Homo sapiens: one gene and its partners. The protein of the gene in region 3 purifies or fractionates together with the protein of the main gene of each other region. This does not show direct contact. Each region holds a gene or a part of one and is shown on either strand. Other genes may lie near its edges.

What was found.
Region 1: the proteins of CST5 (region 3) and HS3ST1 purify together in Homo sapiens (affinity purification with mass spectrometry; one large-scale study listed by BioGRID and IntAct). This does not show direct contact.
Region 2: the proteins of CST5 (region 3) and BTBD1 purify together in Homo sapiens (affinity purification with mass spectrometry; one large-scale study listed by BioGRID and IntAct). This does not show direct contact.
Region 4: the proteins of CST5 (region 3) and HAPLN3 purify together in Homo sapiens (co-immunoprecipitation; one large-scale study listed by IntAct). This does not show direct contact.
Region 5: the proteins of CST5 (region 3) and HKDC1 purify together in Homo sapiens (affinity purification with mass spectrometry; one large-scale study listed by BioGRID and IntAct). This does not show direct contact.
Region 6: the proteins of CST5 (region 3) and ZER1 purify together in Homo sapiens (affinity purification with mass spectrometry; one large-scale study listed by BioGRID and IntAct). This does not show direct contact.
Region 7: the proteins of CST5 (region 3) and BTD purify together in Homo sapiens (affinity purification with mass spectrometry; one large-scale study listed by BioGRID and IntAct). This does not show direct contact.

The regions. Positions count from the first base shown.
Region 1 is NC_000004.12:11,392,650-11,395,272, reverse strand, and holds the end of HS3ST1 (heparan sulfate glucosamine 3-O-sulfotransferase 1 precursor), read left to right. Parts: 3' UTR 1-2,123; downstream 2,124-2,623. UniProt on the Homo sapiens protein: Sulfotransferase that utilizes 3'-phospho-5'-adenylyl sulfate (PAPS) to catalyze the transfer of a sulfo group to position 3 of glucosamine residues in heparan. Catalyzes the rate limiting step in the biosynthesis of heparan sulfate (HSact).
Region 2 is NC_000015.10:83,057,253-83,060,752, reverse strand, and holds part of BTBD1 (BTB/POZ domain-containing protein 1), read left to right. Parts: intron 1-3,500.
Region 3 is NC_000020.11:23,876,949-23,881,171, reverse strand, and holds the start of CST5 (cystatin-D precursor), read left to right. Parts: upstream 1-1,423; 5' UTR 1,424-1,495; coding exon 1,496-1,726; intron 1,727-3,553; coding exon 3,554-3,667; intron 3,668-4,223.
Region 4 is NC_000015.10:88,889,045-88,892,544, forward strand, and holds part of HAPLN3 (hyaluronan and proteoglycan link protein 3 isoform 2 precursor), read right to left. Parts: intron 337-3,500; exon of another isoform or gene 1-336. UniProt on the Homo sapiens protein: May function in hyaluronic acid binding.
Region 5 is NC_000010.11:69,226,832-69,230,331, reverse strand, and holds part of HKDC1 (hexokinase HKDC1), read right to left. Parts: intron 3,126-3,500; coding exon 2,963-3,125; intron 1-2,962. UniProt on the Homo sapiens protein: Catalyzes the phosphorylation of hexose to hexose 6-phosphate, although at very low level compared to other hexokinases. Has low glucose phosphorylating activity compared to other hexokinases. Involved in glucose homeostasis and hepatic lipid accumulation.
Region 6 is NC_000009.12:128,765,428-128,768,927, reverse strand, and holds part of ZER1 (protein zer-1 homolog), read left to right. Parts: intron 1-3,500. UniProt on the Homo sapiens protein: Serves as substrate adapter subunit in the E3 ubiquitin ligase complex ZYG11B-CUL2-Elongin BC. Acts to target substrates bearing N-terminal degrons for proteasomal degradation with the first four residues of substrates being the key recognition elements.
Region 7 is NC_000003.12:15,632,745-15,636,244, reverse strand, and holds part of BTD (biotinidase isoform 1 precursor), read right to left. Parts: exon of another isoform or gene 3,379-3,500; intron 822-3,378; 5' UTR 806-821; coding exon 557-805; intron 1-556. UniProt on the Homo sapiens protein: Catalytic release of biotin from biocytin, the product of biotin-dependent carboxylases degradation.

The DNA of each region.
Region 1 (2,623 bases), on a different chromosome or scaffold from region 3:
CAGAGGTCGCATGTCAGGGCAGGTCACTTAACTTGTGGGCCACAGAGACCCTGACCTTCCTGTGGGAAGGCTTCATGGAGGAATTGCCATAAAGCTGGGGCACGCACGAATGGCAGTAGTGTCACCAGAGCAGGGCATTCTGAACAAGGGAAGCTTGAGACATGAAGACAGTGGTCACGGGGAGAGGCTGGGGGTAGAGGGTAGAGGTAGGCAAGAGATTTGTCTGAGTGGCATGTCAAATGTGTTAAACTCAATGAGAAGCTACTGCTTTCCAAGGCTGGAGTGTTGGAAGCTTACTTAGCAGGCACCCATGTGAATTTGGCTCCTGTGCAGGTGTATCTGTTGCATAAAAATAGCTATCATTTGTTGCACACCTGCCATGTGCTTGGTATTTTAAATATATTGCTTCTAACCTATATAACAACCCTAGGAAGTAGAAAATGGGCTACTAATTTTACAGAAAAATAAACTCAGAAATTAAAGGGCTTGCCCATGTTGATAGAGCCATTACTTCTTACAAATGAAATTTTGTCTCCGATGTCTCTGCTCCTTTTCAGTCCATCTATTTGTGGGTAAGTGGAGGAAGATATAAAGCATATGCATCTGTCTATTAGGCAGAGCCTGTAAGGGAAATTATGGGCATCTAGGATTTGGAGTTGGACAGTTAGGGTGATATCAAGATTACCTTCAAGCAAAGCAGTGGCTGGGATTTGATGCAACAGGGACGTGATAAAACATGCTCCTAACCGGCAGCAGCTCATTTCGGAAGACTGAGCCTGAGTTAAAGGCCAGAGCAACATAACAGAGTTCTCCAAACAGCACACAGTGAGAGAAGGCCAAAGCTAAAGAGGACATCATCGGATTTAGCTGCTTCACTAAAGTGTTTTGATGTAGAAAATGACCTTGGTGCTTTAGTTATCCCTGATGTCAAGACCTTTACTCTATTTTGCCCAAATTTCTCAGTTAGATAACAGCAAAGAGAGAGAGCCAGAAGACCTGGGTGTGCATCCTAGCTGTACCAATCACTGACCATGGGATCTTAGATTCAGACTCTGAGAACCTCCATTTCCTTCTCCATAAAAATGGGCAGATATGTACTGTACTCTGTTGGGGGAAAACTCCAACTCAATGAGATAAAGTAGGTAAAAACTATAAACCCAGTGCATATGTTACTTAGTGGTTAAAAACATTTGGGACTTTAGGAGACAGACCAAAACTGGTTTTGAACCAGTCGGCAGAAATGCGCTGCCTTTTTTCCTCCTCTGCTTCCCAGCTATGTGACTGTAGCTATTGCTGTTAATGCTCCATCCAGAGCTCATTTACCAGGGAAGTGCTCTCAACCCCAGCTGCCACAAAGATTGTCTTCTGTACTATTTTCTGAAGGATTTCTCTTAGTTGGCAGGAGTTTTCTTACCTGAAGATGCCTGAGAAATGTTGTCCACCCCACTCCCCTGCTTTCCTAGGGTTAGGGCATGACTAATGATTGACTGACCCATGTGGGATGGGGCATGGGGGTAGTAGGGTAACAGTCCACCCTCATTGCCTCCAGGCAGGACAACCTCTGGTGCAACTCATGCTCAGAGCTCCTCGTGAGATCAGGCTGAGGCTAGACTTCTCCTGAAACTGTACTTTTACTTATTTCTTCCGAAACTTCATCCTTTTCCCACATTACCTTACTCATTTCTTCTGCTACCCTATTCTCAGTAAATGTGTTTCCCAAGAAAACAGGAATCCCCCCTCAGACTTTGCTTCTAGACCATCCACTCTAAAGTCTTAACCTTGCATGCATGTTTTCTTCTCTCTGTATTTTACATGTATAACGTGATCAACCCACGGAGTTATTAGAATTCTTCCAATTAAATGAGATATAGCAGAGAATGAGTCTATTTTATTGGCTAGCAAATAGCAAAGTGTTAAATTCAATAATGGCTGAAATTGTTACCAAGTAGTAGGCTCTTTTATTAGCTTATCGGACTACCAAAATAGTATAATGCATCAATATCAAACTTAAATTTCAACTTCATAAAACAATTCTGGGCCCAACAAATATGAAGGTATTGCTCCATCTTATGTAGCAACATCTTGTATTTCTATTGTTTGATAAATATTCCACTTAGAACTAATACATGGATGTCTCTTTCTTTTGATTGCAACCCTCTGGCACTTAACACAGTGCCTGGTACATGGTAAGTAAGGAGTATTAATACTTGTTTGTGGATTGAAGGGTAACTCTAGACTAGTTGTCAGTTTTACGCGAAAGCCCCTTCTACCACATCGCAGCCTCATGATCTGGCCCGCCTCCTGGAAGTAGCCTTTCTGGCCCAGACACTGGTAGGTACTTTAAAATAAGCTGTTTTATGTAATCTTCACAAACCTCAGGGGAAATAATCAATTCAAGCTTCCTGTGTTTGTTTACCATTAGATCCACATCAAATAGTAACCATACTTGACATAGGAGCTATAAATATTTATTAATCGAACAGATCACCCTAATACCCAAGCTCTTTTCACTATGCCTTACTATATGACCTCTTCTTGAATATTGAACCAATGAATAGTTCTCCAAGGTAACCCATTATATCTCCAAACTGGCTATTGAAATTCATACTTACTGTACCTCGAC
Region 2 (3,500 bases), on a different chromosome or scaffold from region 3:
GGCGCGATCTTGGCTTACCCAATCTCCGCTTGCTGGGTTCAAGCAATTCTCCTGGCTTAGCCTCCCGAATAGCTGGGATTACAGGTGTGTGCCACCACGCCTGGCTAATTTTTGTATTTTTAGTAGAGATGGGGTTTTACCATATTGGCCAGGCTGGTCTCAAACTCCTGACCCCAGGTGATCCGCCTGCCTCGGCCTCCCAAAGTGCTGGGATTACAGGTGTGAGCTACCGTGCCCGGCTTTAAATTTTTAGTTAGATTAAATATAACCTAAGTTGTTTTTTTTTTTTTTTGAAAATTATTAATTTGGGGGGAAAATAGGACTAATTTGAGGACATGTAATAATTTTTCTGTGCTCTCGTCCTTAGAGGTTGTATATGAGAGCTTAAATGATCACTTTAAAATACGAAGAATTGTGGTAATGTCATGTTTAATCTTTACATTTTAAAAACCTTGGCTTAGTTTTTTTTTAAATATTATAAAAACTCTAATAATTAAATAGAATGTAAAGGAAATGTATACATATGAATCAAGAGGATTCTTGGATTTTTAAGTAACTTTTTTTATTAGAAATGAAAATATTTTCCCTTTTGACGTTACATAGAAACCTGTGCTGAATTGTCTAGTCAATTAACGTGTATTTATTGAGACTTAAACACATGCCCATAATGTGCCTGGTACTGTTTAAGAAATAAATTAAAAATATAAGATACACAGAGATCCTTTTCTTACTGTTTATTGTCCAGTATTTATTTTTAATTTGCAGTGCACCCAAAAGAACTTAAAATGTCTTATAAGAAACACAAGGGTAAGAAATAAACTAGAGTCAAGGGTGAAGCTAATAGAAAAATGTATGCTGTCAAGCTGGGTACAGTGGCTCAGGCCTATAATCCCAGCACTTGGGGAGGCTGAGGCGGGAGGATTGCTTGAGGCCAGGAGTTTGAAACTAGCCTGGGAAATATAGCAAGACCTGTCTCTACAAAAACATAAAGCATAAAAAAAAATGAGCTGAGCCTAGTGGCATGTGCCTGTAGTGTTAGTTACTCTGGAGGCTGAAGCAGGAGATTCACCTGAGCCCAGGAATTTCAGGATACAGTGAGCTATGATCGTGCCACCACTCTCCACCCGGAGTGACAATGAGACCCTGTCTCAAAAACAAACAAAATGTATAAGCTATAAACTTTTGTTGTTGTTGTTGTTGTTGTTTTTGAGACGGAGTCTTGCTCTGTCGCCCAGGCTGGAGTACAATGGCGTGATCTCAGCTAACTGCAACCCCTGCTGCCCGGGTTCAAGTGATTCTCCTGCCTCAGCCTCCTGAGTAGCTGGGATTACAGGCGCCCGCCACCATGCCGGCTAATTTTTGTGTTTTTAGTAGAGTCGGGGTTTCACCAGGTTGGGCAGGCTGATCTTGAACTCCTGACCTCAGGTGATCCACCTGCCTTTGCCTCCCAAAGTGCTGGGATTACAGGCGTGAGCCACCATGCCCGGCCAACTTTGTTTTAATTATCTGAGCAGCTAGTGCAAAAAGAGAAACCTGGGTGGACGTAATTATTTATAGATTAAAAACAAGGCAACTGCTTAGGAGATGCACAAATCTGATAATTAGATGAGTTTTTAAAAAAATCCTGATGAGATCCCCTCATACAGAAGACATTGCTGTAATGAAGTGTCTTCAGTCTGTGTCTTCAGATACATACTTGTTTTAAAAAATGTTCCTTGATAGAAAGCAAAAGTATATTACTGAAGTATAATTTGATAAAAGCAATTTGAATGGGAGATCTCACACAAAATAATCTACAAACTTGATTCTCTCTTGTTCCTGGAGTGTACTTCCCACCGTCCTTTTAATCTTTAGATCTAATCTCAAGCAGAAATTTCTCTACAAACCTTTTCCACATCTTCCTAAGTCAAAGCCCGCATTTATAGATTCTCATAGAACCATGTATAGGTTTGCGGCACTTGTCCTGTTAAGTGTGAATCTAATCAAGGGCAAATGGTGATAAAGGCCTCACATTGCTGCTCTGTTTTACAACTCTAGTAATTTTTACCTGACAAAAATACATCAAGGCAGGCATGTAAAGACTTCTAGACTGCTACCTTGTCCTTCAAACAAAAATTTCTTTTTTTTTTTAATTAAAAAAAAATTTTTTTAAGTCTCACTTTGTTGGCCGGGCTAGAGTGCAGTGTTGCGATCTCCGCTCCCTGCAGCCTCCACCTCCCAGATTCAAGTGAGTCTCCTGCCTCAACCTCCCAGATAGCTGGGATGACAGGCATGAGCCACCGTGCCTGGCCTAAAACAAAAATTTCATAGTTTTCTAGTTTAAGAAGGGAATTGAGCATGCTGTTAGCATTCTCTCTCTCTCAATTAAAATGACTATTAAGAAATTTTTAAAAAATAGTAAGTCCATTACAATGAAGAGAAAAAGAGAGGTTGGAAGGGCCAACAGAGTAGAAAGGGACAGAGAAGTTGGAAGCTGATTGATGGATGAACTAGAGTAGATGAATCTGGAGCCCAGAATCCAGAGCTTTCAAAGCCGCAGCGGAGCTGGAGCGCCTTTCCTGGCAGAACCCCAACAAAGTTCTTGGCTAGCAGTTGGAAGTAAGGAGGGTGGAAATGAGAAGGTAGTGCTAAAACATGGAAATTAATTTAAAGCCTGTGTATAGACCATCCCCTTAGCCAGCTGTCCATGACAATGGACAGGCTTTTTGAGATAAATTGAACAAACTGCCTGAGAAGAACTGGGACTGCTGGGTATGGCTTTGGGACCCCAGGGTTAAGCTCTCTTCCAATGGCTTTGAGGGGTCCCTGCCCTAGGGCTGGCTTCCCACTCTAATGCCAGGTGCCAGTCAGCAAGCCTCCCACATACACAGAGCTCCCAGCCAACATTTCTGTTTTGGAGATAGTATTATCTTGAAAACAGACCAGCTGCTTAGAATAGTGAAGTTGGAGACGGAGTTTAATCATCTGACATATAAGGAAAAGCAGAACGTGAATGACAGAGACCAAGAGAAACACAACAGCGGATCCTCAAGGAAACAGACGAGAACTTTTAAAACTTTGGTTAATGTCATCTTGGAGACTTCAGAAAGTTTTTGCGTTCATAAAACCAGCACATGGTGCTGTGGAGAAAAAAGGAACGATCAAGAAAGAAGCAAGCATTCTTAGAAATTTAAATGTGATTGCTGTAGAGAAAAATAGGAAGGCACCAGAAGATAATGGCAAGGAAATCTTCCAAAATGCAGAGGGAAATAATGATAAAAAATATGAGACAACATACAGATAAATAGCTAATATTTACTGAGGCAATTTTTTTTGTCAGGCGTTATTCAAAATGCTTTGTGTTTTAATTTATGTTAATCCTCACAACCACATTATGAAGTAGGTGCTCTTATTCTCATCTTTTTAGAGAGGCAGGCATTGATAATAAGTCACATGGCTAGCAAGTGACAAAACAAGCTCAAACCCAAGCAGTCTATTTCCTCTTGGCCTTACTGTATGGC
Region 3 (4,223 bases):
ATTTTATTGTGTGTAAATTCTACCTCATTCAATGTAATTTTTAAAATATTACATGAGTTTTCCAAGCAGTGTACAGAGGACCAGTGCTGGCAGCACGTCTCCCAGAGGGGAGGAGCAAGAGAGGCTCTTGGGCTCCCACATTCATCCTGTGGCTGCTGCTCCTTCTCCTGACACCCCCACCACCTGCCAGGGGTCTCCCTGCGCCTTCCACCTGGACACACCCACAGTTACCGTGAGACTCCAGGTCGTTCCCTTCCCTGCTCACACCCCCTCCAGGAGCTTCCTCTTCCTGGAGCAGGCATGCCCAGCCTTGCCTCAGGGCCTTTGCACTGACTATTCCCTGCTGCCTGGGGCTTCTCAACCTTTCCGGTCTCTTAGAGACTTCCCTGACCAGGGTCCAGTAGCACCCACCCTCTCTCTAACTGAGCGACTATAATTCCCTGATCTAAATTGTTGATCACCACTCTGCATCCTCCCACACACCCTAATGGCTGGGCTATGCAGTACCACAGCCACCAGCAGCCACTCGTGGCCACAGGGCACTTGAAATGGGGCTAGTCCACAGTGACGCTTGGTCTAACTGTAAAAAATACACAGGGAACTTCAAGACATTACACTCACACAAAAGAATGTAAACTAGCTCCTTAAGAATAGTCCTGAAGTGTTGAAGTATTTTGGATATATTAGGTTAAAGTAGAAATACCAAAATTACTTTCAGCTGTATCTTTTAACTTTTTCAAATGTGTTTTAAATTGCTCCTGGGTTTCTGTCACATCTCTGTTGGATGGCAGCTCTGCAAGTTCATGTCTACGGCTCTATTGCCCAGACTGCTTGGTGCAGGGGGAAGCTGGTGACAGGTTTGTTTATTGAATAATGAGGAGTTATGAAACGAGAACCCAGTGAACTTTACCCAAAGGTTAATTACTTTATGTTTGGCAAAGAAGTTCCCCAGAAGAGGGCATGGACAAGGTCATCCCGGAGCTTCTGAAACAGCTCCCTGCCCCAGGAATTCCCAGACCATGACCACGTGCTCCTGGATGCCCCTGACATCTGAAGACTTTAGAAGGCCAAGCCCTGTATTTCTCCCTTTCCTGTGGACATAGGTGGTCACCAGGTTTCACAGCCCAGGGAGCGGTGTCACCTCTCTGGAATCCAGAGTGAGCCAAGCTTTAGAGCACTGAGGAAGAGGGGCAGGGCTGTGGGGAGGTTGCGGTCAGGACAGGAGTGGGGAGGAGGATGAGGAGGAGGCATGGGAGGAGCGAAGGGAACTTAGGGAGGGAGGGAGGTGGTTGGGGGTGGAAAGGGAGATAGAGACAGAAGAGGAGGGGTAGAAAGAGGAGGAGGAGCCAGGGGCGGGGCCAGGGAGCAGGTGGGGTTGGGGGACACCCAAGTAGGATAAATGCACAGCTAGCTTCTGGCCTGGGCTTCCTGCCTCAGCCTTCTGCTGCTTTGCTCTCTGGGAGATCCAGCTCCTTGCTCTGTGTCCCAGTAGAACATGATGTGGCCCATGCACACCCCACTGCTGCTGCTGACTGCCTTGATGGTGGCCGTGGCCGGGAGTGCCTCGGCCCAATCTAGGACCTTGGCAGGTGGCATCCATGCCACAGACCTCAATGACAAGAGTGTGCAGTGTGCCCTGGACTTTGCCATCAGCGAGTACAACAAGGTCATTAATAAGGATGAGTACTACAGCCGCCCTCTGCAGGTGATGGCTGCCTACCAGCAGGTGCGTGCTACCACCACCCTGGGGGTCCTGAGTCCCAGCTGGGTTTTTTGCCTCACCCCCCAGAGCACTCCCAGCAAATCAACATTATCTAAACCGCAGACTCATTCAGCTTTCTCTGACTGTCTGCTGATGGTCTTCATGCCCTAGGACACTCCTTGGCCGTGAGTGCATGAGTTCAGCCCTGTCCTGTCCCCTCGGCCTCTTTTAACCTGCAGCAGCCACTGTGTCTGTACCATGACTGTGGCATTTCCCAGGGTCCAGCAGGTGTGGATGGAGACTGTGCTGACTCTGGGTGGGCTTGATGCTGCTCAGGATGAGATCCAGGCCACGAGGTTCATCTTCCTCCCTGAGTCCTCTCCACAGGGGCCACACGGGAACCTGACTCCTTGTCCTGGATAGCCCCGCTTCCCTCCCAAGTCACGCCCCTGGGCACAGCCCGTTATGGCTAGTGGCCTTCACTCTCAGGCTGGCTGACCACCCCCTACAGCCCAGGACAGCTGAGTTCCTGCTGGGGTAGAGCATGCCTGACCCTGCCTCTGCCAGCTAACGCAGAGTTAGACCTCAGCAAAATGAGGACAGCAATCACCCAGCAGAGTGAAGGAGGTGGTTGGGTCCAGAGGGAGGAAGCTTCAGCAGGGCTACCGAGCCCAGCTTGACCTACGTCCCATGGCAGAGCAGCAGTGACACAGCGACCACAGGGCTATATGGCCTGCCAGCCTTTAGAGCTCCTCCACCTTCTCTTGGAAAGTCAGAGGAGTCCAGACCAGCCCTGTTTCTCCTCCTGCAGCCCTCTCCCTGCACAGGAGGGGCATTCCCTGGTGCTGTGGTCCCTGCTGGCCTGCACTCCCTCTTAAGTGTGTCACTCACTGGGAGTGAAGCACAGAATGATGTAGATCGTTGGGCCCTGGAGCCTATTTTACAGAGCAGCAGACTGACACCGGAGGGATCACAGGACTTCCATGTGGTTCTACAGGACTTGTGTGTGGTTCCACAGGGCAAGGTCTAGCACCCTGGTCCCAGGGTCCCTCATCCCATGCTTCTCCACAGTTCTGACAAGTCATGTTTTGGGGCGGCACTGTGCAGGGAAAGCATTCAGTTCTCTTCTGAAGTTGCAACCCTAAGACATGCAGGTGTGTGACTCACTTTAGAAATATTGCCTTGAAAATCACACCTGGAATGGAGGCATGCAGGAGGCAATGTTTATTGGCCTAAAACATCAATGTATGTGAGCATCTCATCTCCTACTGAGAAATGAGGAAAAATACCTCTGGGTTAAATGGCAGGAATGAGATGCTCTGTGGACTGAATGCCAGGAGCTGGAAGTTAGCTGAAATTTCATCATCAGGTGGCAGCCTTCCTAGGATGGGACCAGTGTCCCTGCCCCCTGAGCACAGGTAGCAGAATTCAGTTAATCCTTTGCTGTGGGAAAGAGCATTCACTTGGTGCTTAGACCCTGCCCTGCAAGCCTGGTGCCAGGACTGTTTCTTTGTCCCACCCTGGCTGGTTCCCCAGAGCTGTGCCTTCTGTTCCTGAATCCAGTGAAGGGGGTTTTAGGCCCTGGCTTCCATCTGCCCTGCCCCTGCTTCTCTTTCTACTGGGCTGCATGAGACAGCTTGCTTGAGATACCCAGAGAAAACAAGTTACTAGGAAGGACTGGGACACACTACCACTGCCAGCCAGCAGGAGAAGGTGGCTTGTGTGCCTTTTGGGTGACAGTGTGGGCATGAAGCCCCAGGCAAGCCCAGTGACTCAGTCACAGTGAAGTGCCTGCGTGTGCATGAAACTGACAGCATGCTGCCCCTGCTTCCTGCTCTTCCACGCGTGTAGATCGTGGGTGGGGTGAACTACTACTTCAATGTGAAGTTCGGTCGAACCACATGCACCAAGTCCCAGCCCAACTTGGACAACTGTCCCTTCAATGACCAGCCAAAACTGAAAGAGGTATGTGCCTGATGTGGGTCAGGGGCATCAAGTACCGCAGAGCAGTGTGTGCATGTGTGTGTGTGTATGTGTGTGTGCACGCATCTGTACTCCTGCACATGCTTTGGAGGGCATGTGTGCATGTGTGCAGATATTTGTGGGGCCACGTATGCAAGGATGTATTCATGTGCATGGGAGGATGCATGTGTGTTTGGCACACATGTGCAGATGTGTATTGTGAAGTCAATGAATGTGTTTGTGCATATGGAGTTTTGTGTATGCATGAATGAATGTGTGGGATGGTGTACACATGTGGCTATGCATGTAGAAAGATGCATATGTGTGCATACATGAGGAAGATGCACAGGAGTGTGTGTGTGCATGTGTGTGGATGTGTGAAGGAGTATGTGGGTTCATGCATATATTCGTTTGGGTGAGGGTTGCTGTGAGTTAATATAGATGCCTATGTGTGTGCAGATGGAGTGGTGTGGATAGGGGTGATGAATTTGTTTTGCTAGGAAGACTTTAGCTTGGTAATGGTTACTGGGAGGTCAACTCTGCCTGCTTTGGGGTGTTG
Region 4 (3,500 bases), on a different chromosome or scaffold from region 3:
CAGAGAGGGAAGAGGAGGAAGACGGGGCATTGCTTCCCAGCTCCCTTGCCACCCCAGTGCCTCTGCCATAGAGTGTCTGCTGCTGCTGCTGGCCTCTGCGTCCCCCACTTCCTTGTTGGGTCCCCTCACCCTACTCTCTAGAAGTCATTCCTCCATTAAAGTCTCTTTATTGGAATCATCTGGGCTGAATTCTGCTTCCTGCCAAGACCCTGGCTGCATGGGGGAGAGGAGGTAAGGGGGTCACCAGGGCCAGCGTCTGGATGCCTTGGGTGTCAGGCCCAGAAGCATATCCTGTTTTGTTTTTTTTTAAAGATAGAATCTCACTCTGTTGTCCAAGCTGGAGTGCCGTGGCAAGATCTGAGCTCACTGCAACCTCCGTCTCCTGGGTTCAAGTGATTCTCATGCCTCAGCCTCCCGAGTAGCTGGGATTACAGGCATGCGCCAACATGCCCCATTAATTTTTGTATTTTTTGTAGAGACGGGGTTTCACCATGTTAGCCAGGCTGGTCTCGAACTCCTCGCCTCGAGTGATCCGCCCACCTCGGCCTCCCAAAGTGCTGGGATTACAGGCATGAGCCACCACACCTGGCCAGAAGTCTATCCTTTGTCCTGGAGGCCAGTGATGGCTTTAAGCAGAGAAGTCACAGGATCAGACTCACATCTTAAGACACTTCCCTGCAGGGGCTGAGTGGAAGGTAGACCTGGGGGCAGCAAGACCAGAATGACAGCAGGCAGCTGCAAACATAACTATGATTATCATGTAGCAACGTGGAAGAATGCTTAGGGTGTAAGTTAAAATAGACAAAGCAGAACATACAATTGCCTCTGCTATGATTGCAACCATGTGGTCTTGTGAATGCCTGTGTACAGGACCCAGAAGATGAGGAAACACTTAAAGAGGAAGGGAGGGAGGACAGAAGGGAGAAAGGAAGGAAGGAAAGAAGGAAGGGAGGGAGGGAGGGAGGGAGGGAGGAAGGGGAGGAAGGAAGGAAAGGAAGGAAGGAAGGAAAGGGAAGGAGGGAGGAAAGGAGGCAGGCAGACACACACAGCATTGGCTTGTTAGAGTGATGGGATTGTGGAGGAAACATTCTTGTTTCCAGAACAGTTAGGAGCTCTTGCTGGAGAGAATGGATGTAAAGAAAGTTGAGAGGCCAAATCCACCATTCCCTTAGACACCACAGAAATCCCAAGGCCCAGACCTGCCATCTGTGCTGTGCACTGCAGCCAGGACACTACCAACTCTGAAACCCCACTTCTTGTCCAAGAGGAATTCATTCCCCTGTTGATTCCTGTAAGCCCCCTTGGTGATGGAGAACTGGGAGGCCTAAGCACAATGGGGCAACCTGGTACAGAGTTTGGGAACTGGAAGATCAGAGTTCAAATCCCACCTCTACTATTTATTCACTGCGAGATTCTGGGCAAGTTTCCTCGGTTGCGAAATGGAGATCATAAAACTCACCCTGGTATATTTCTCGCCAATGCATTCTAGTTTTCTCCTAAAGTAACAGAGGTCTAGATGGGTGCACGACCGTTCAGCTGAAGACTGCATTTCCAGCCTCCCTCGCAGCTAGGAGAGCTATGTGACTCAGTTCTCATCAATGGCAGCAAGCAGAAATAACATGCCACATCCAGGTCTGGCAGTTAAAACAATTACAGATGCCTTTCCCTGGTATTCCTTCCCCCAACCTTCTGGAAACCACAGTATCCAGCTTAGAGTCAGAGATGGAAACCACAGATTGAATGGCAGAGCTGCCCATCAGCCCTGGACCTCCTCCACTTGCACTGTCCTATGAGAGAGAAACAGAGTCCTATCATATTTAAGCCACCACTTTTTTGCATCTTTTTTTTTTTGAGACTAAGTCTCACTCTGTCGCCCAGGCTGGAGTGCAATGGTGCAATCTCGGCTCACTGCAACTTCTGCTCCCAGATTCAAGCAATTCTTCCTGCCTCAGCCTCCTGAGTAGCTGAGATTACAGGCACCTGCCACCACACCAGGCTAATTTTTGTAATTTTTTAGTAGAGACGGGGTTTCGCCATGTTGGCCAAGCTAGTCTTGAACTCCTGACCTCAGGTGATCTGCCCACCTCGGCCTCCCAAAGTGCTGGGATTACAGGCGTGAGCCACTGCACCCGGCCTGCATCTCTTTGTCAACACAGCTTAGCCTCACTTGTCCTAACAAATACACACACCACAGCATTACTATGATCAGTATAAAAGTATTAACAGCTGAGCACTTACTCTCTCATTTATTTTATTTTTGTTTTTGTTTTGAGGCCAAGTCTCACTCTGTCGCCCAGGCTGGAGTGCAGTGGTAAGATCTCGGCTCATAGCAACCTCTGCCTCCTGGGTTCAAATGAATCTCCTGCCTCAGCCTCCCAAGTAGCTGGGATTACAGGTGTGTGCCACCACACCCAGCTAATTCTTTGTATTTCTAGTAGAGATGGGGTTTCACCATGTTGCCCAGGCTGGTCTCAAACTCCTGGGCTTAATTGTTCTGCCCGCCTCCGCCTCCCAAAGTGCTGGTATTACAGGCATGAGCCACCACACCTGGTATCTCTCATGTAATCCTTACCACTACCCTGACATGTGAGCCTAGTAGTGTTCCCATTTTGCAGATGGAAAAACCAAGGCACAGAGAGACTAAGTCATATGCCCAAGGTCATCCAGCTAGGAAGTGGCAGAGCTAGGATTCGAACCCACTCCAGCCCCAAAGCCTGGAACCATGCCAAATTCAGGGAGGTGATTGTGTGGCACACACAGCCCAGTGGCCCAGAGCAAACCCTTGTAAGAGTTCGTTTCCTCTGCCTTCCTTCAGGCTCCACACCTGGAACCAGGAGGGAAGTGGGGCCAAGATTTGATGTTGAGCTTGATGTCCTGGGCTCCCCGCTGTCCCTGGGCACCTAGAGTCTCCTTGAGCAGAGGGGCTCCCAGCTGCTGCTTATAATGTTTCCAGCCTCTTACAGCGGCTCATCTAGCACAAATGCTCCCTAGTGAGAAAGGGCTTCCTAAGGGTAAACAAATGCAGGCGTTTCTGCCACTAAGTGACATCAGTAACACCTCTTTGTTGGATGCTAACTCAGCAGTAATGTAACCTCACATTGAGGGGGATGCCAAGAAAATCAAAAGGAATTAGCTGGGCACAGTGGCTTACACCTGTTATCCCAGCACTTTGGAGGCCAAGGAGGGTAGATCACCTGAGGTCAGGAGTTTGAGACCAGCTTGGCCAACATGGTAAAACCCCGTCTCTACTAAAAATATAAAAAATAGATGGGTGTGGTGGTGGGTGCCTGTAATCCCAGCTACTCCAGAGGCTGAGGCAGGAGAATTGCTTGAACCTGGGAGGCAGAGGTTGCAGTGAGCCGAGATCACACCTTTGCACTCCAGCCTGGGCGACAGAGTGAAACTGCATCTCAAAAAAAAAAGAAAAGAAAAACAAAAGGAATTATAAGAAAAGATCAGCCCTGTGCCCAAGAACAAAAGGCCAGGAGGAAGCTGGCCAT
Region 5 (3,500 bases), on a different chromosome or scaffold from region 3:
CCCCCAAGGCCTATTTGGCCTTGGAGGCTGACTGGAGGCTAAGGCCTGGAACAGAGCCAGCAGGGGTCAAGCCAAAGAATCACAGTCACCCTCATGCTTCCCATGCCCCTTCCATGACTGGCAGAGAAGGCTCCAGTATTAACACAGCACTTTTAAGGCACTTGATCCTGTCAGAACAGACCACTGCAGCCCCCTGACCAAAAGGCTGGGTGGTAACTAAGGCTCAAACAGGTGACTCCCTCGCAGATAGGTCCTGATGGGAGTAGGCAAACTCAGGACTTCTCTGGAAGCTGCATACATTTCTGAAACGGACACCATAAGGAATTAGGAGAGTTTTGCTTGTTTTTTGTCGGTAATCATGAAATTATACCACCAGCTCACAAGAGCTAGGAGGACTTGGGACAAGATTTTAGAGATGTTAAAGCACGCCATCCACATGATCTCATTAAATCCTGACAATCATGTATGGTGCCGGGATTTACCAAGAACACCTGGCTTATTAGGGACTCTGGGCCCAGGGACCTCGGCACAACAGAATCACTGGTGAGATGCTTTGTGTGGTGAGAGGCTCTGCGGAGACGGGGATGGGGAGCTGGGCGTCTTCCCGGCTAAGGAGGAGAGAGTTTCTATGACTTAGTTAGTTTCACTTCTGAACCTTCAGAAGCAGCCAGGGCCAGGAGGACACCGCCTGTCCCAGAGCCTCCAGACCATCAAAGGCCACCTTCCCTTGCTTCTGGGGACACACCTTGTCTGTATCAGGAGGAGGGGCTGCAGTCCAGGAAGCCAGGCGGACTTAGCCCTGGTGCTCCCCACATGACTCAGCTGCTTCCTCCCAGGGGCCCCAGATGCCCTGTCAAGGACACGTCCCAGTACTCTCGTCAAGCTGTGGCAAGGACAGAGCCAAGATTTCAAAGTAGGGCTGTCTCTCTCCGAAGCTCAACGTCCTTCCAGGACAGGGCACTGTCCATCCCAAGCACCTACCCACAAGTGAGGGCACAGGGCCTTTCCCAGTGCAGTGTCCCAGGGCCTCTCAACCAGCAGAGCCAAGCTACCTTGATCCAGGCATTGCTCCAGAGAGGTCCAGAACACGACTGATCCCATCAAAGCCCCCTGAGAGCTCCCAAACCTCAGACCCTGCTCCTGCGAGAGCCCCAGTGCTCTTTCACGAGCTCGGTTTGGGCACTGGGACCCTGACATGGGAGAAACCCCTTGGTCCTTGGTGGTTCTGTCTGAACAGCCACACCACAGGGTTGTCACAGGAAATATGTGGCTCAGCGAGTCCCCAGCACCCCATGACCACAGTGGTTGCTCAGTAAATGGCAGCTTTCTCTCTTTCTTTCTTTCTTTTTCTTTGCTTTCTTTCTTTCTTCTTTCTCTTTCTTTCTTTCTCTTTCTTCTTTCTTTCCTTTCTTTCTTCTTTCTCTCTCTTTCTTTCTTTCTTTCTTCTTCCTTTCTTTCTTTCTTTTTTGATGGCGTCTCGCTCTGTCACCCAGGCTGGAGTGCAGTGGCGCAATCTCGGCTCACTGCAACCTCTGCCTTGCAGGTTCAAGTGATTCTCCTGCCTCAGCCTCCCGAGTAGCTGGGATTACAGGTGCATGCCATCACACCTGGCTAATTGTTGTATTTTTAGTAGAGGTGGAGTTTCACCATGTTGGCCAGGCTGGTCTCGAGCATCTGACCTCAAGTGATCTGCCCCCCTCGGCCTCCCAAAGTTCTGGGATTACAGGCGTGAGCCACCACTCCAGGCCAGTAGCAGCCCTTTTCCCTCTTACAGCTTCATTCAGAGGCTGAGAATGGAAGAGTTGGATGGGACCTCATAGATCCTATCTACAGATTTCTAGGCCATTGTAGGCAAAATAATGTCCCCCACCCCCAACAAAGATGCTCACATCCTAATCCCCAGATCCTGTGAATATCTGAGGGTGCAAGGCAAAGGGGAATTAAGGTTGCAGATGGGATCAAAATTGCTCATCAGCTGACCTTGAAGTTGGGAGATTATCCTGGATTATCTAAGCATGACTAACGTGATCACAGGATCTTTAAATGTTGAAAGGAGGCAGAAGGTCAGGTCAGAGAGGGACCTGAAGAGGCTACACTGCTGGCTTTGAGAACAGAAAGGGGCATGCCTCAAGGATGCAGGTGGCCTCTCGAAACTGGAAAAGTTAAGGAAACAGATTCTCCCCTCAAGCTTCCAGAAGGAACGCAGCCCTGCCGACACCTGAATTTTGGCCCAGTGAGACCCACTGCAAACTTCCGTCCACCAGAACTGTCAGAGAATATATTCGATTGTTTTCAGCCACTGTGATTGTAGTAATACATCACAGCAGCCATAGGAAACAGATACATAGGCCATTTCTCATTCTACAGCTGGGCAAACTGAGGCTAAACACTTGCCTCAGGTCACTGAGAGTGACAGAGCTGGGCCTCAGACCCAGGTTTGTTGAATTATCATTGAATGTGATTTCCACTACATCATTCTTGCTCCCATTACTCATTCCCAGTGCTACACTAGGTGCTGGGAACACTGTGGTAAGACCTTGGACCCACGGAGTGAGTGGTTAATTTGGTGGAGACTCAGAGTGGGGACACAGCAAAGTGACAAGTGCCCTGACAAGCACCCAGCCCAGCACAGGGATACTTCCTAGATGGAGGCAGGGACCACTACGCTGAGACGGAAAAGCCACGTTGATACTCACCAGGGAAGAACATGGAGATGCTCCAGGAGGAGAGGGAGCAAATGTGTGAGGCCACGATGGGCAGAGAAGCCACGGTGCCTGGGGCTGCAGAACTGCAGAACTGCAAGAGGGATTCAGCAGGACTGAAGCAGAGAGGGGCAGGGAGGGTGGGACAGCAGAGAGAGGGCTAGAGAGAGAAGCCAAGGTACAGGGGCAAACCTTAGGTACTTTAGACACCCATCAGCCAAGAGGAGCCAGGGACCCTGGCAGCGGACAACTGCACTCACCGGAACCATCGGGAATGGCCCTGACGAAGGTGGGCAACATCTTCACTGCAGCCGTGGGGTTGGTGTCCTTTGCCAGGCCCTTCTCCATCTCAGCCCGGAACCGCCTCATGATGTCCAAAAGGGTGTCATCGGAGAGCCGCATGTGATACAGGAACCTGTCCACCTGGAACAGACACCGGCCACCAAGGGGTGCTGCTGGGGGCCCTCACCCTCCAGTCGAGGCTGTAACCCCCGACATCCCTCAGCAAGCTGCATTCCTGACTCTGGGGACAGCATTGAGATGTGGATTCCCAAAGCCTCCCTATCTGACCCCTCCTCAGGCAGAGGACAGGGAAGCGAGTTAGGAAAGCAGAATGGAACGGAGGGCTGAGAAGGTGTGGAGTTACTTCTCTGAAGGGCAGAATCTGAGGAGAAAATGATTCTCCCATTATTCTGATGAGACAAGGGAGAGGCAGAAACTAAGAAGGATTCAGGGTTTCCGATTCCCAGTTCAGGGCCCTCACCAGTGTCCCATTCCTCTCCACCAAAAAAGGCCAGC
Region 6 (3,500 bases), on a different chromosome or scaffold from region 3:
CCATTCTACCACGTAAAATAGGCAAAATGAGGGTGTTGAAATGAATGTGACTTGGAGACAGGTGGGGAGGGGCAGTGTATGCTGGGCCTAGATATGTGGTTGGAGTGTGCGTGGCTGATCTACGGGTAGAGGCTGGTGATCCGGAAGTGCCCGGCAGAGGCTGAGACTTTCCAGCCTGCTTTATAGGAAGCAGAACCACAGTTGATCTCCCTCCTTATACCCCAAGCCCGGACTATATCCTCAGGCCTGGGACACAGGCTGAGCAGGGCAACTGGGCCAGAGAATTTGAAAATGAAAGGTCAGAGCACTTAGGAGCTGAGAGCCAGCATGTTGGGGTAGGCTGTTGTGGGTAGAACCCCAGGCTGGTGACCTGCGGACCTGGTTCAAATCCCGGCTCTGCTGTTGGCTTGCTGTGTGAGTTAGGCAGGTTCCATCTCCTCTCTGGGCCTCAGTTTTCCTATTTGTAGATTAAGAATAATGGCCTTCCCTTGCCTCCGACTAACTCTAAAGGCTGTTGGGAGGATGAAATGAGACACAGCTTGTGAAAGAATTAGGTGTGTTCTGAAGCTCTCTACAAAGGTATTATCATTAGTACCACTAGGATTATGCAGACACGTTTTGGGGGCCCACTAGCTGGAAGACTGCTCTTGGCACTCTGGTTTTTTTGCTTGGCTTCAGTACCTCATCTGTTCTGGAGTCCTGAGAGGTGAGTGCAGAGACCCCTGTCTGGTTATCTATTTGTGGACCACTGTCTTATATCTGGCGCAATCGCTGAAACTGATTTTCCAGCTTCAGAGATGCAGAAGGGTCTCTTGAAGCATTATTCTCAGGAACATCACTCTTCATAATTATTGGTTACCACCTTCCTGCCATCCTTTCATGGCATCTCCTCAGCAACCCTGTTCACAACACGCGCAACACAGCGTGTGCCACTCGCAACATGCTGACAGGTAAGGACCTTGATAAATATTGAGGCTGGAAAACATTGGCTGGGGATCTTGTGGAGCCGAGGCCCTGTCACTGGCATTGAGCCACTCACATACTCTGTAATGGAGACCCCAGAAATCACATAGGGTCCCTGCCCTCAGGAAGCTTTCAATGCTGTGGCCAAAAAATGACATGCCACGGAGTGGTTACCAGCAGTACTGGATCATGTGAGCTCAGTGCCTGAGTTGTAAGGAAGCGGCGGAGGCTCGTGGAACAGAAGGGAAAGCTGAGGTTGGAGAAATGGTCCCTCCCCATAGCATAATGGCAAGGGGCTCGAACTTTAGGGTCACACACTTACCGGAGGAACAACTCATTGCTCATCTTTCAACCATTGTTTCCTTATCTGGGAAACAAAATGATAATGTATTATCATATTGATAAAATGTTATCTGTGGCAGCTGGGTGCGGTGGCTCACACCTGTAATCCAGCACTTTGGGAGGCTGAGGTGGGCGTATTGCTTGAGCCCAGGAGTTTGAGACAAGCCTGGGCAACATGGTGAGCCCTCATCGCTACAAAAAATAAAAAAATTAGCCAGGTCTGTTGGTATACGTCTGTAGTCACAGCTACTCCAGAGGCTGAGGTGGGAGATTGCTTGAACGTGAGAGGTGGAGGTTGCAGCGAGCTGAGATCGTACCACTGCACTCCAGCCTGGGTGACAGAGTGAGACCCTGTCTCTTAAAAGAAAAATAAATAAATAGGCCGACCGCAGTGGCTCACACCTGTAATCCCAGCACTTTGGGAGGCCGAGGCAGGTGGATCACCTGAGGTCAGGAGTTCGAGACCAGCCTGGCCAACATGGCAAAACCCTGTCTCTACTAAAAATACAAAAATTAGCCTGGCATGGTGGCGGGCACCTGTAATCCCAGCTACTTGGTTGGCTGAGGCAGGAGAATTGCCTGAACCCAGGAGGCAGAGGCTGCAGTGAGCCGAGATTGTGCCATTGCACTCCAGCTTGGGCAACAAGAGCAAAATTCCATCTCAAAAAAAAAAAGAAAGAAAAATAAATAAATAAATAAATAAGTTATCTGTGACTTTGATGCGAACTGCTTGGAAAGCTGGACACACTGGGTCTTTTTTTTTTTTTTTTTTTTTTTGAGACGGAATCTTGCTCTGTCACCCAGGCAGGAGTGCAGTGGTGCAATCTCGGCTCACTGCAACCTCTGCCTCCTAGGTTCAAGCGATTCTCCTGCTTCAGCCTCCTAAGTAGCTGGGATTACAGGCATCCGCCACCATGCCTGGCTAATTTTTGTATTTTTAATAGAGATGGAGTTTCACCATGTTGGCCAGGCTGGGCTCGAACTCCTGACCTCAGGTGATCCACCTGCCTTGGCCTCCCAAAGTGCTGGGATTACAGGCGTAGGCCACTGTGCCCAGCCTGACACACTGCGTCTTGAACTAATGAACTACCTGTGTACATATCTGTCTGTTCAGATCCATAGTCTCTGGCAAATTGCATAGCCATAGCCCCTTCCTTCCAGCTGCCTTTTCTGTAAGTTGTAGATGGTAACTCCTGCCTTGTTGGGTGTTGAGAGAATTCAATTAATTAACACATATAAAATACTTAACAGAGTTCTTTTTTTTTTTTTTTTTTTGAGATGGAATCTTGCTCTGTTGCCAGGCTGGAGTACAGTGGTGCAATCTTGGCTCACTGGAACCTCCACCTCCCGGGTTCAAGCAATTCTCCTGTCTCAGCCTCCTGAGTAGCTGGGACTATAGGCGCCCGCCACCACGCCCTGCTAATTTTTGTATTTTTAGTAGAGACAGGGTTTCACCATGTTGGCCAGGATGGTCTCAATCTCTTCACCTCGTGATCCGCCCGCCTTGGCCTCCCAAAGTGCTGGGATTAGAGGCGTGAGCCTCCACGCCCAGCCAGAATTCTTGGTATATACTTGGTATTCAGTATGGGTAGGATCATTAATACATTTGGTTACAAGAATAGAACCCAACCAGTCTGATTACTAGCCGAATGCAGCCTCCTCAAGGCCTCTCTGTCTCCAGCATCATGAGCAGCCACCTAGCTGTGAGGCACACTCCCCAATTATTGTGTGTCTGCATCTTTCTGACATAACCCAACTCATAGATTTAATCTCTGCAGACTTTTCAGAGCCAGGTGGCGTCTGGTTTTCACCTGTTTCCCGACCACCTGGAGATCCCCACACTTGCTGTGACTCCCCTCACACCCCCAGTCTCTGGCCCTTGATCTGCTGCCTCCTGGAAAGCGTCTAGCCTCTGTAAATAGGGCATTTGTTTGGGTTTTCCCCCCAGCTCCTAGGTTAATATTTCACAGGGTGAGTACTGCTCCAAGGCTCAGAGCTTCTGGCTCCCCCAACCTCTCTGTCCTCTGGGTATCAGGACACTGGTGGGATCCCATGCTCCCACCTCCAGACTTCAGTTTCTCTTTCCCTCCCATTGTTTGGATGGATGGACTGAAGACCAAATATTTGGTGAGAAGCGGGGGTCTGCTTTAGGTTTGCATCCCACTCTCATCAGTTTTGTGATCTCAGGCAAGCTT
Region 7 (3,500 bases), on a different chromosome or scaffold from region 3:
CATTCTTGCAGATGCTTACTACTTCAGTGAAGCTTCGAATGACTCAGAGAGGTCATCACGCCCAGTCATCTTCAAATTTTTCTGCACATTAGACTGCACTGGGGAGCCTTAAAACAATCCCAGTGCCAGTCCACACCCCTTCCACACCAATTACAACGGACTCTCCAGGACCCGGGCAGCCATAGTGTTTACCACTTACCTCGTGATTCTTATGTACAACCACACTTGAGAACTGGGGATCTAGTCCTGGGCTTCTCATACTTGCCATGTGAAAGCATCACCTGGGGATCCTGCTGCAATGCACATTCTGATTCAGTAGGTCTGGGGTGCCGCCCAAGATTTTGTATTTCTAACAAGCTCCCAGGGGATGCCGGTCCACGGACCACTCTCTGAGGGGTAAGGCTCCTAATTCAACTGACTAACTCAACTCAGGTTAACTACCTGGATGCTTTTTCAGAGGGTGGTAGGAAGCCTGGGATTACCCAACCACTGATCAAGGGGTAAAGAGCAATCTGCTCTGTATGAGAGAAACTCAGGTTCCGAGGAGCATTCTTGCCTTTTGGGCTGCAGTCATCACTTGCTGTTCATAGATGTCAAGGTTCTGGTTCATGAGCTCCAAGGCCTCTTGGCGGCTGATGAGAGCCAGAGGGTTCAGACTCAGGATGGATGGATGCTCATACACGGCAGCCACATAATATTCAGCCTCGTGATGGTCAGCCACGCTCTCCTCCCCGGTGTGGGCTCCCAGGGCAACCACGTAACAGCCGCAGAGGAAAAGAGCAAGCTTACTTCTGGCTCCAGACATAATGCAGACCACAAATCTGGAATGTAATGGGGCAAGGGGAAAACAGCTGAATAAAGAATCCTGCCAAGAATTTAACGTTTGCAGCTGTGATTTATTAATCCCAGCAATTAAACTCACTCGCAGTGATACTGCGGCTCAAAGAGTTTGTTTCATGTTCCTAATAAAAGAGTATGTGTTTCTCTCCAAACACGTAGCAAGCCACATTTAAAATGGCTCACTGTGTTAATAGTCTGGTTTTAGAACATTTCCAAAACAGACTCAACGTTTGCTATGATTTTCTTACCCAGTGTTCAGCAAGACTGTAGTGCGTCACTACCCACTTTTCTAGCTGTGCACTTAGATTTTAAGCAGTAGTAACTATCCAGATTATTTGACATAATTCTGTGATATATTTCACACTCTACCCTCTGCCCTCTATCCATACTACAGGTCAGCCATCCGTAATGTCTGTGATTGTCATGACCCTAATAACACAGCTTGGCTTTCCTGGCCATCAAAACCTAATGAATTACAATTCTCCCTGCATTTCTTTGGTTAGTAATAAATACTATGGATAACTCTCCCTTTATTCAGCACAAAATTATTTATTTGGTGCCAAGAAACTGCTGACTTCTACATAAATGCCAATAGCTACTTTCTTTTATAGACAAGCAAAGTATCCCAATAAAAGCATGTTATTTTTTCTCCTTGAACTTGAGAATCGCCATTGCACATTATCACTTTCTTAACCCCATCTCTGTGACTCCAAAACTCTTGCTCAAAAGCCTACTCATTTGGAAATAAAATCCTTTTTGCAGTGATAAAATGCAATTTTCTAGAAAATAAACTACAAATTTCCAGAGAGTAAACTCAGCTTCATAGCTTCTACCAGAAAAGACTAGAAATAAATGATACTTCTGTGTGTCTCCTCCTTCCTCCCAGAATAGGAATGTTTCTTTCTAAACAGTGTGCATTACTGTTTTAGAGTAAATAGTCCAATTCTGCCTTTAAAAATCAGCCTGGCCTCCCAGCTAAAGCGTCCTCTCAGGCAGAGATTTACTGGGTAGTGTGCCAAGGCCAGGCCACCTGCCCATGGAGATGTCCTGGGGCTGAACAACTGCCCAGGAATCCGGATTAAAAGTCAAGATAACAAAGACAAATCAAAGAATCATATTGCTGCCCTTTAAAAAGAAAATGACACCCTGTCCAAGTCTCAACTCATAACTCCTGTGTTTGCATTTTAAAACCAAACTCCCCAGGCTACAAATTTCTTTATTTTTTATCAAAAGTTCCAGAAACAAACCATAGCTCTTTTCGTCAACAGACTAAGAACTAGAAATGCTCATCTTGGCAAAATTAAATATTCCTCAGAATGAGAAGTATTCTCCCACCCCAACCCGGTTCCATCTCAAACTGTTATTTCTTTCCCCAGGGAAATGTACCATCCAAACACCAAACCCCAGGATTTGTTGCCATTCATCTGGGACACTGTAAACAATGTTTTAAGATAAGAACAAGGAGTCTTTGAGTGAGCAGTCATGAGTTTTTGAGTAGAAACAAAAGTATAATTGATAAGCTTTCTTATCTGAATTTTGCCTCTAAAGACAAGCAAGGAATAATTTAAAATGTCTCAGAAACCCATTTTTCCATTCCATCTCTGGTTTCACAATGATAACAGAGAGTGATTTTGGGGGCAAACTTTCATCTTCAAAGTCATACTGACAATATTTCTGAAGTATAACGCAAAGGCCTCACTAAGAGGTATGGAAACTGAGGCCAGGAGAGGAGGGTATGAACCAGTCCCCAGTGGGGGCAAGTGAGGAGTGCCTGGGGCCAAGAGTGGCATTCACATTACATCTCTTTCTCAACTGAGAGCTGGGTACCACCGATGTCGGGGTACAGAACATTTGTTTATGTCTAAAGGACTTGCAATCCAGCAAAACAAGGAAACCGCAAAATCCGCAAGGTATCACATTTCTTTCTATCTGGAGAAGATAAAATTTATTTTACAAAAGGAGCCCGGTAGGAGAGCTCTAAGTGGCAATCATTTGTGTGTGAACAAAGGTAGGTCGATAATAAGAGGTTATGCAGATTCAACCAGGTATTCATGCTTGAAAGAACCAAGCTTAATGAGGTAGAAGAGAATGAGTAATTACAATAAAAATAGGTCTAGTCAGCCGGCCCTCAGTATCCATTGTTTCTGCATCCATGGATTCCACCAACCTTGGATTGAAATTACTGGGGTGGGAGGGGGAGGAGGGAGCCCAATAAAAATAATAGCACAACAATAAAAAATAATAGCAATTTAAAAAATACAGTATAACAATTATTTATATAGCATTTAGTTTGTATTAGGTAGTGTAAGGGATCTAGAGATGATTTAAAGTGTACAGGAGGAAGTGTTTAGGTTACATGTAAATTCTACACCATTTGATATAAGGGACTTGAGCATCTGAGGGTTTCGGTATCCACGGGGTCCTGGAACCAGTCCCAACAGATACTGAGGGACAACTGTACATCAATTTGCCCTTCCCAAAGAAACATTTTACCCAAATTAGCAAATGCTGCTTTTCTCTCTTTGGCATCACACATACCTTCTCAGGAAAAAGTAAATAGGGCCTGTGGCAAGGACTCTGAAGGGTTCAGCAGGCAGCAGCGGGAGGTGCTCAGTTGTAAAGTGGCAGGACTAGAGGTAGGGCTGGAGGGGCCCAGGCAT